2 separate regions of the Homo sapiens genome follow, and region 1 is linked to region 2. The links come from fine-mapping of genetic effects on gene expression. A gene starts in region 2. The other region holds a variant in brackets. All regions are shown on one strand. Distances are from middle to middle. Region 1 overlaps SMPD1 (sphingomyelin phosphodiesterase 1). Region 2 holds the start of APBB1 (amyloid beta precursor protein binding family B member 1).

What was found. PIP is the estimated chance that this variant, and not a neighbour inherited with it, causes the effect.
Region 1: its variant is fine-mapped to the expression of APBB1 in whole blood (TOPMed, PIP above 0.99).

The regions. Positions count from the first base shown.
Region 1 is chr11:6,391,622-6,395,966 of GRCh38, reverse strand. SMPD1 (sphingomyelin phosphodiesterase 1) reads right to left here. Exons shown (of 6, transcript NM_000543.5): 2 at 3,811-4,345; 3 at 2,580-2,751; 4 at 2,274-2,350; 5 at 1,926-2,071; 6 at 971-1,769. The coding sequence ends at 1,360. It overlaps APBB1 (amyloid beta precursor protein binding family B member 1), which reads left to right. Exons shown (of 15, transcript NM_001164.5): 14 at 5-181; 15 at 266-842. The coding sequence ends at 433. Among named protein-coding and RNA genes, the nearest start is that of SMPD1, 3.3 kb to the right of the region's middle. The variant C/T (reference allele first, on the strand shown) is at 2,434.
Region 2 is chr11:6,416,441-6,420,826 of GRCh38, reverse strand. It overlaps APBB1 (amyloid beta precursor protein binding family B member 1), which reads left to right and starts at 1,733. Exons shown (of 15, transcript NM_001164.5): 1 at 1,733-1,842. RefSeq lists silencers at 1,366-1,765, 1,776-1,965.

The DNA of each region.
Region 1 (4,345 bases), 25 kb after region 2:
GCAGACAGAGGCAGTGCTGGGAGAGTGTCGGGTGCGTTTCCTCTCCTTCCTGGCCGTGGGCAGAGATGTCCACACGTTTGCATTCATCATGGCTGCCGGCCCAGCCTCCTTCTGCTGCCACATGTTCTGGTGCGAGCCCAATGCTGCCAGCCTCTCAGAGGCTGTGCAGGCTGCGTGCATGGTAAGCTACTAGTAGGGTGGTGTGGTGGTGGCGTGGCCCCATGGGAGGTAGGCTGGGGAGTGACTGCCCTGCTTGCCTCCGCAGCTTCGCTACCAGAAGTGTCTGGATGCCCGTTCCCAGGCCTCCACCTCCTGCCTCCCAGCACCCCCTGCTGAGTCTGTGGCACGGCGTGTAGGGTGGACTGTCCGCAGGGGTGTTCAGTCGCTGTGGGGCTCCCTGAAGCCCAAACGGCTGGGGGCCCATACCCCATGAAGAAGCCCCCACCTTCCCTCCACCTGCTTGTGTTGGGCCCCAGGGAACTAAAGGGTGTGGGTCAGGGAGGGGTCTAGAGGCTATTCCTAGGCCTCAGGCCTCCCAAATATGCCCCTCCCCAGTAGCTACGGTTCCCTGCCTAGGAGCTGGGGAGGGAGAGATCTAATCCCTTCAAGGAAGTGATAACACTGGAGTGGTAACAAGAGGAGCAGGAAGCAAGGCCAGCCCTGGTTCTCCATCCCCATGTGTTTCAGGTGGAACAGGAGGAACTGGTCCAGGCCAGGCCTCATCCTCCTGGACCCAGCAGGGGCAGAAGGAGGAAGGGACTGGTCCAGGCATGGGTCCCTTCCCCCTGCTCCATGGGCACCTCTGCTGTATTGATATCACTAATAAAGTCTGTCTGCACTGCTGTGTGCCTTCTTATGCCTGTACCACACCATCAACCCATTAGCCTGTGCCTCAGTTATGATCTTGCTCCAAAGATCTCCTTGCCCTGCTTGCCTGGAAAGAAGAAATTGGGACAGTCACACAGGGGTCTGGAGTCCAAGTCTCTTATCTTTATTTTAACAGACTGGCAGCATCAGGTCGCAGCAGCAGTACAGGGTTCCTGGCTGGGCAGCACAGGCCTGGGGCGACAGCTCCTGTCTTGTCTGCCCAGGGCAGTGTCAACTTAGGCCTCTACTCCATGGCTGTGAAAGGACAGCAGCCTCAAGGCAGTCTAGCTCCTGGGCACAGGCAGCCAAACCCCCTCCCATATCCAGCTAAACCAGCTCCAGGAAAGGAGAAGGTCCTGTTTCCCCGGCATCCTTGGGGCCCAGGGACTGGTTCTTTCACCGGATGATCTTGCCTGGTTGAACCACAGCAGCATTTGGGCTTTTTCACCCTTTCCTACATCAAGAACTTTCCCAAATGTGGGCCCTGGGGCCCTAGCAAAACAGTGGCCTTGGCCACAGGCTCTGGGCCTCTGGGAGGCTCCCATCTGGCATCAGGTGGCGGCACAGAGCAGGGCTGTCAGCACGGGCAGAGAGCTGGGCACAAAGAGTAGCCAGACGGCAGGGCGTGCCACAGGGCTCCGAGGGTGGGTGGCCCTTATGGTAGAGAAACCAGAAGGTCTGGAAAAGTTGCATGTCGCCCCGCATGCGATATACCAGGTTGTGCCAGGCGGTAGGCAGTGTGTTGGGCAGCCCATAGGTTTCTCGAGCCCTGTAGAGAAGCTGCCAGTGCGGTATGGCTCCCGGTATGTTTGCCTGGGTCAGATTCAGGATGTAGGTCTCATGGTCCAGGACCACGTGAGAGCTCCCGGAGTAGTTTCCATCTATTTGGTACACACGGTAACCTGCAAGGATGTGGGGCTGACTGGAGGGGCAAGGAGCAAGGGTAACTCCAGGGAGGGGCCACACATCCTGCCCATGCTTTGCAGGCTCTGGCTCCAACCTCCTTCCCCTATCCCACCAACTCCAGGATAAGGGAGGCTCCCTTCTGCCTCACTCACCAGGATTAAGGCCGATGTAGGTAGTTGCACTGGGTGCCAGGAAGGCTACAGCCAGCGGCCGGCTCAGAGTCTCTTCATCATAGAAGACCTCAAATTCATCCACATGAGTGTGGCCAAAGAACTGAGCAGCCAGGGTGTTCTCATACCTGGCCAGAAGGTACTACATTCAGAAGATTCTAGGGAGGGGTAGGAAGACATCTGGGGAGATAGGATGCCCTCTTTCTCCAACCTGTTCTAGTGAGGAGCCTCCCCACTCCATGGGACAACAGGGATGGTGAGATGCTCAAGGGAATTTTCAGCCTTCAGACACTCACCCTGTCCCTATTCCCACCCTCATCTCCGTCCTACCTGGCTACAATTCGGTAATAATTCCAGCTCCAGCTCTTCAGACAGTGCCCTGGGGGAATGTGGCCAATTATATGCACCTAGTAGGGAGAATTAAGGATGGTAATCAGGGCATCCAGGGGTCCAGGCAGCCCTGGCTAGAGAAAGGGGGACTGAATGAAGG[C/T]TTTCAACAGTGACCATGAGCTGAATCCCCAGGGAACACTTGTTGGGAATGCCAGGAAAATAAAACTTCTGTGCCCAGAGGTGCTCCAGCTCAACAGGAGCCTGCTTGTCCCCCAGCACCACCGTGTTCCCACTACTGGCCCTCACTTTGTCTCCTCGATCCTCAGCAGCCTGAAGCTCCCCCACCAGCCACTGGAGCTGTCCTGCGGGATCCGTGGAGTTGATCAAGAGCCAGAAGTTCTCACGGGAACAAAAATTCATATTGAGAGAGATGAGGCGGAGACCGGGGTATGGGGAAAGAGCATAGAACCCCCCAATTCTGAAACAAAGTAAACATGAGAGGTCAACACTTGTTCCAATCCTGGTCCTCCTGTGCTGGGCATTTGGGTGGAGGGTAAAAGCATACATGACATCTTCCCCACCTGCAAGGAGCTCACAGTCTAGCCAGAGACCAAACAGTTCTAATTATTGGGTCTGTGTGACACAAAAGACTCTGAGGGCAGAGGGCTCCAGGAGTATGGGGGAGGGATAAGAGTTAGCTAGAATGGGAAGCAAGGACCACACAGAGGGAAGATGACATGGGATGGATAAGGTGGGAAAAACTGGAGCACTTAAAAAAAAGGGGGAAATCATTTCCAGAGGGCCAACATGAGCAAAGACACAGCTGGGGCATAGAGAGGTTATGCTGCCAGACCTTTGAAGGAGGGTGGCTGGAGATAAGAGTAGAAAGGGAGGGCTGGAAAGCTGGGTGCAGTGGTTCATGCCTGTAATCCCAGCACTTTGGGAGGCCGAGGTGGGCAGATCATGAGGTCAGGAGATCAAGACCATCTTGGCCAACATGGTGAAACCCCATCTCTACTAAAAATACAAAAATTAGCTGGGTGTGGTGGCGTGCACCTGTAGTCCCAGGTACTTGGGAGGCTGAGGCAGAATTGCTTGAACCCAGGAGGTGGAGGCTGTAGTGAGCTGAGATGGTGCCACTGCACTCCAGCCTGGGCAACAGAGCAAGATTCCATCTCAAAAAAAAAAAAAAAAAAAAAAAAAAAAAGGGAGGGCCAGGAGCAGTAGCTGATGCCTGTGGTCCCAGCATTTTGGGAGGCCGAGGCGGGAGGATTGCTTGAGGTTAGGTGTTTGAGACCAGCCTGGGCAACATAGCAAGATCTTGTCTCTACAAAAACTAAACTAAAAAAAAAAAAAAAAAAAAAGCCTGGTGCGGCAAAACAGTAGAAAGGGAAGGAGGAGTCAGATTAGGGGAGCCAAATGAAGAGCACTAAGGACTCATGCTAGAGCAATCAGAGACAATGCCCCAGGTTCCCTTCTCCCTTCACTTTCATTCACCTTTCTTTTCCCTTCCTGGGTTTCCACGGACGATAAGTACCTGAGGGTGCGCAGGGCTTCGGCAGGCAGCCAGGGCTCCCAAGCCTTGGCCATCGCTTCATAGAGCCAGCGGGAGGAGTGGTTGCCCTCAATGAAGGGGGGAGGGAAGCTATTGACAGGTGTGCTTTCATGGTTACCCACAGCAGGGTACACTGGCACTGGCCCCAGGAACTTCCTCACAAGTGCTGTGACGGTGGTCAGGGCCCGCAGTTGGTCCTGACGAGTCTGGTGCCAGACATCATGTGCGGGGATGTCTCCTGTCCAGTACACCATATCAAAAGGGCCGGCTGGGCCCAGCCCACTCAACAGGCTCTCCAGGGTCCTCAGGGGCAGGTCACACTTGCTGTATTCGCCCCAGTATCCGGCACCTGGCCGGGATGCGGGCGGCAGGCCAGAACCCCGGCGGCAGCACAGTGGGTCTGCACAGTCAGGGTCCGTGCCCTCCAGGTAGTCATGATCCCAGTGCAGGTCAGTGAGGAAGAGGATGCGGCTGACAGGGGCACCTGGGGCTGGGGGGCTAGGGGGTTTGGGGGGCG
Region 2 (4,386 bases):
TCTGGGTAATTCTTCTTCATCTTTCAAGAACCCAGGTCAGATGTCATTTCCTCCAGGTGAGATGCAGTCAAATCTGATTCGTCTTTAGATCCCTAGGGCCTGGCTTGGGACCTGATACATGGTTCATATATCATAGGCATTTGTCAAATCATTATAAACTATTGGTTGTGAATTCATAATTGTTGAAACTGAATGATAGGTATATGAGGGTTCATTATATTGTTCTGTCTGCTTTAGTATATATTGGAAATTTGCCATAATAAAAAGTTAAAACATTTATATTTACCACAAGTAAAATAAAAGTATATTCAAAGATGACTTTGAAGCTTCTGGCTTGGGAAGCCAGTAGTTGGTGTCATTCATTGGAATGGATGGAATGGAGTTGTGTCCAGTGTGGGATGTGTGTTGTGTTGTGTGTGTTGAAGAGGGTTCTTTTTCACCCCAGTGAAACTCCTTAAAAGACTAATAAAGGGGGATGAAACAATAAATTGAGGCTGGACACTGTGTCTGACGCCTGTAATCTCAGCACTTTGGGAGGCCGAGGTGGGAGGATCGCTTGAACACAGGAGTTCCAGACCAGCCTGGGGAACACAGTGAGACCCCCTCTCTACTAAAATACAAAAAGCCAGGCGCGGTGGCACATGTCTGTGGCCCAGGTACTCCGGGGGCTGAGGCGGGAGGAATCTGAGCCCTGGAGGCTGAGGCTTCAGAGAGCCATGATCTTGCCCCTGGGTGACAGAGTGAGACCCTGCCTTGAAAGAAAGAACGAACTCAGATTTGGATATCTTTAGTTTTAGGCACCTGAGAGGGATTAGCATGTAGAGGCTTTCTGGATGGTAATATAACCTCTCATTATCCTTGATGGCCTCTGGGTCACTGATCTGACCATTGGGATGTATCCCACTATCCAGGGAGGGTCTGTAGTAAGTATTGCACCCCACCATCTTCCTTACATCTTTACACTTTTCATTCACAATATCCCCTTCCTTGTGAATTTCTACCGGGGAGCAATGTATTCTTGACATTTTCCAGGCCTTGATGTCAGCTTTATGCTCAGCAGCAGAGGTATTTCAGTGTCAAGAAACATCGGAGTTCCAGTCTAAATTCATCACTAACTGTGACTGCGGGCAAGTCGCTTTACCTCTCTTAATCTTAGCCTCAGCCTCTGAAAAATGAGGATAATAATTCTGGTGATTTTACAGAGCTGATGTGAAGATTAATGCGCGTTAACGGTTTAATAGAGAGCCCGGCACGGTGTAAGTGGTCAATAAATACGAGCTATTATTATGAGCAACGCTGTGTCCTCAGAGCCTCCCCACCAGGACGTCAGGGAGCGGTGCAGCAGGAGCGGCGCAGAGTGCCTCCCGGGAATCCTTCCCCGCGCGGCCGCGGCGCCGCACAGCCGCCGCCATTCGGGCTCCAGCCCCGTCCGCGCGTCTCCCGGCGTGGGTGCGGGACCAGGGCGCTGCGGGGCGCGCAGGGTGAGTCTGTGGAATAGTAGTGGAGGACGGCGCCGCGCTAGGCGGGGGTCCCAGGGAGTCGGCTGCAGGGGTGTCTGCTGGGAGGGCTGGACCGCGGGGCTCACCGAGGTCCGAGGGCCGCCCGCAGGGTGAGGCCCCCAAGAAGCTGCGGCAAGTGCCGCGCCCGCCGAGCTCGCTCCCGCGCCCGCCCCAAGATGGCGCCCCTCCCCCTCCCCTTGCGCGCGCCTCCGCCGCTCGGGGCGCGGCCCCGCGGCCCGCGCGCTCCTGGGCGGGGGATGTTGTGATGGAGAAGCCGCGGCGGAGCCCGAACCCCGCAGCCTGAGCCACCTCCGTCATCTGGGCCCGGGGCCTCACCGCGCAGGTAGGAGGTGTCCCTGCCCCGGCCCAGCCCCGGTGGCTGCGTCCCGATCACCAGCGGCCGGCGGACCCTGTAGCCCCTACCCTGCGGCAGCCCGGGTCCCCCGGCCGGCCCCATCCCCCATCCCCGGGTCGCCCTTCCACCGCGCGCCCGCAGACCGTCCTCTCATACCCACCATCGCAGGGTCCACTCGGGCCCTCACACCGTCCCTTCCGCTGCCCTTTACCTCCTGCCCCTCGGGGTGACTAGGGGCGGGTATGGAGGACGCGAAGCGAGGGGCAGTGGGTGTTGGGGGAGGGGAGGCCCAGGTCCGGGAAGGGGACGTGGGGTGGGGTGGGCTGGCAGGCCGCGCCGATTCCAGCAGGGGTCCCAGGCCCTGGATCTGTCAAGCCGCATTCTGTTGCCCTCAGCGACCGAGGGGTGTGCCCTGGGGCGGCTGTGTCCCCAGCTCAGCCAGGAGGCCTAGCACTGCCAAGAACACTGATTAGAAGCAGTTTTCCCACTGCCAATTCCTAACCTGTTTTGTATCGGCCTGTGTATCTCTTGCATTCTGAGCCCCTCTAGCTATAGTCCCAGCTCTCTCCGCCCTTCAGAGTCAACGCTTGCTGTCTTCATTTCCTTACTTCCCATTCATTCTTAAAAGCACTCCACTCTGTGTCCCTGACACCCACTGAAACTGTCTAGGCCAAGGTCACCGGAGACCTCCTTGTGGAGAACTCCAGTGGACACTGTTATCTCCTTTACCTTTGAGTAGTATTCGGTGGGGTATGTCAACTCACTCTCCTTGAAGCATTTTCCTGCTTTCTGCCCTACAGCATTGTCTGCTCTTCTCAATCTCATTTGCTTCCTCTCCTCCTCTCTTTAGATGCTGGTGAGGCTCTTGGCTCTGTCCCGAGCTGTCTTCTCTCAGTATCTGTTCTTTCTCCCCAGATATTTTATCTACTCCCAAAGCTTCAAATTTCATATATATGCTAATGATTCCCAAATTTATATATCCAGCCCAGACTTCTTTCCTGAAATCCAGACTCATATGTCCAGCTGCTCTCTTGACATCTCCTTGAAAGACAAACAGGAGTTCCAAACCTATAGATTCCAAGCTAAATTATCTTCTGTGGTTTTCTCTGTACCCCACTTCCAAATCTGTTCTTCCTTCGAATCTCAAAAATGGCTCTTTGCCAATCTGGAGTCATGAGCAAGACTTGAGATTAACCCCTCTCTCACTCTCTGCATCTCATTTCACCAAGTTCTGTCACATCCACTGCCTAAATATTTCTCAAATCCATTCATTTCGCTCTTTCCTCACTGCCACCAAAGTTAATCTGGGCCACCACCATTTTTTTTCCTTGACTACTTTAATAGCATACCCTCTTGCCTACCTCCCTTTAACTGTTCTCAACACAGTACCCAGAGTAATCCTTTGAAAAATGCTTCCAATCACTTATTCATGCAATAAATATGATTTCAGCACCTAATATATGCCAGGCACTGTGTTATGTCCTGAAGATATAATTGTGAGCAAAAGAGACTGAGTCCTTGGAGCTGACAATCTAGGAGAAAAATCAAATAAGAATAACATTACAAATGTAATATGTACCATGAAGAAAAGCTGTATGGTGCCTTGAGAACGCACAAGAGCAGTAGCTAAACTGGTCTCGGGGATAGGGAGAGAGGGTTGGAGGACAGCTTCTCTGAGAACATGACGTTTGAACTAAAATATAGTGGATGAGTAGAAGTTAATTCAGCTTAGAGAGTAGGAGAAGAGGTCCCAGGAAGCATGGAAATCACATGCAAACACCTTGTAGAAGGAAAACACATGTCTTCGAGGAATCAGAAGAAGGCTACTGAGGCTGCAGAGCAGTGTGACCAAAGCCAGGGGCAGGGAGGAGGAAGGCAGGCGCCAGACTGAGCAGGAAATTTAGGCCATGTTAAGAATTTGGTCTTAAGGGCCAGGCGTGATGGCTCACGCCTGTAATCCCAGCACTTTAGGAGGCCAAGGCGGGCGGATCACCTGAGGTCAGGAGTTCAGGACCGGCCTGGCCAACATGGCGAAACCCCATCTCTACTAAAAGTACACAAAAATTAGCCGGGCATGGTGGTGTGTGCCTGTAATCCCAGCTACTCAGGAGGCTGAGGCAGAAGAATCGCTTGAACCCGGGAGGCAGAGGTTGCAGTAAGCCGAGATCTTGCCACTGCACTGTAGCCTGGGTGACACAGCAGGACTCCATCGCAAAAAAAAAAAAAAGGGAATTTTGTCTTAAGGTCTTTGTCCTTGATGGTAGTGGATGTGGAGAGTAGATGAAGTCCAGAAATTTTTCTCAGAGAGGAAATCATCAGTACCTAGAGATGGATTGAACATAGCAAGTGCAGGAGAAGGACATGTCAAGATGTACCCCTACTTCAGATTCACAGAATAGGATGGATTCTATCATTCCATGAGCCGGGATCCTGAAAGAGGACCAGTTAGTGTGTGGGAGTGGGAAACATGAGTGGGTCTATTAGCTTGAGACATCCAAGTGGAGATGTTGAGTAGAAAGTTGAATGTACTTG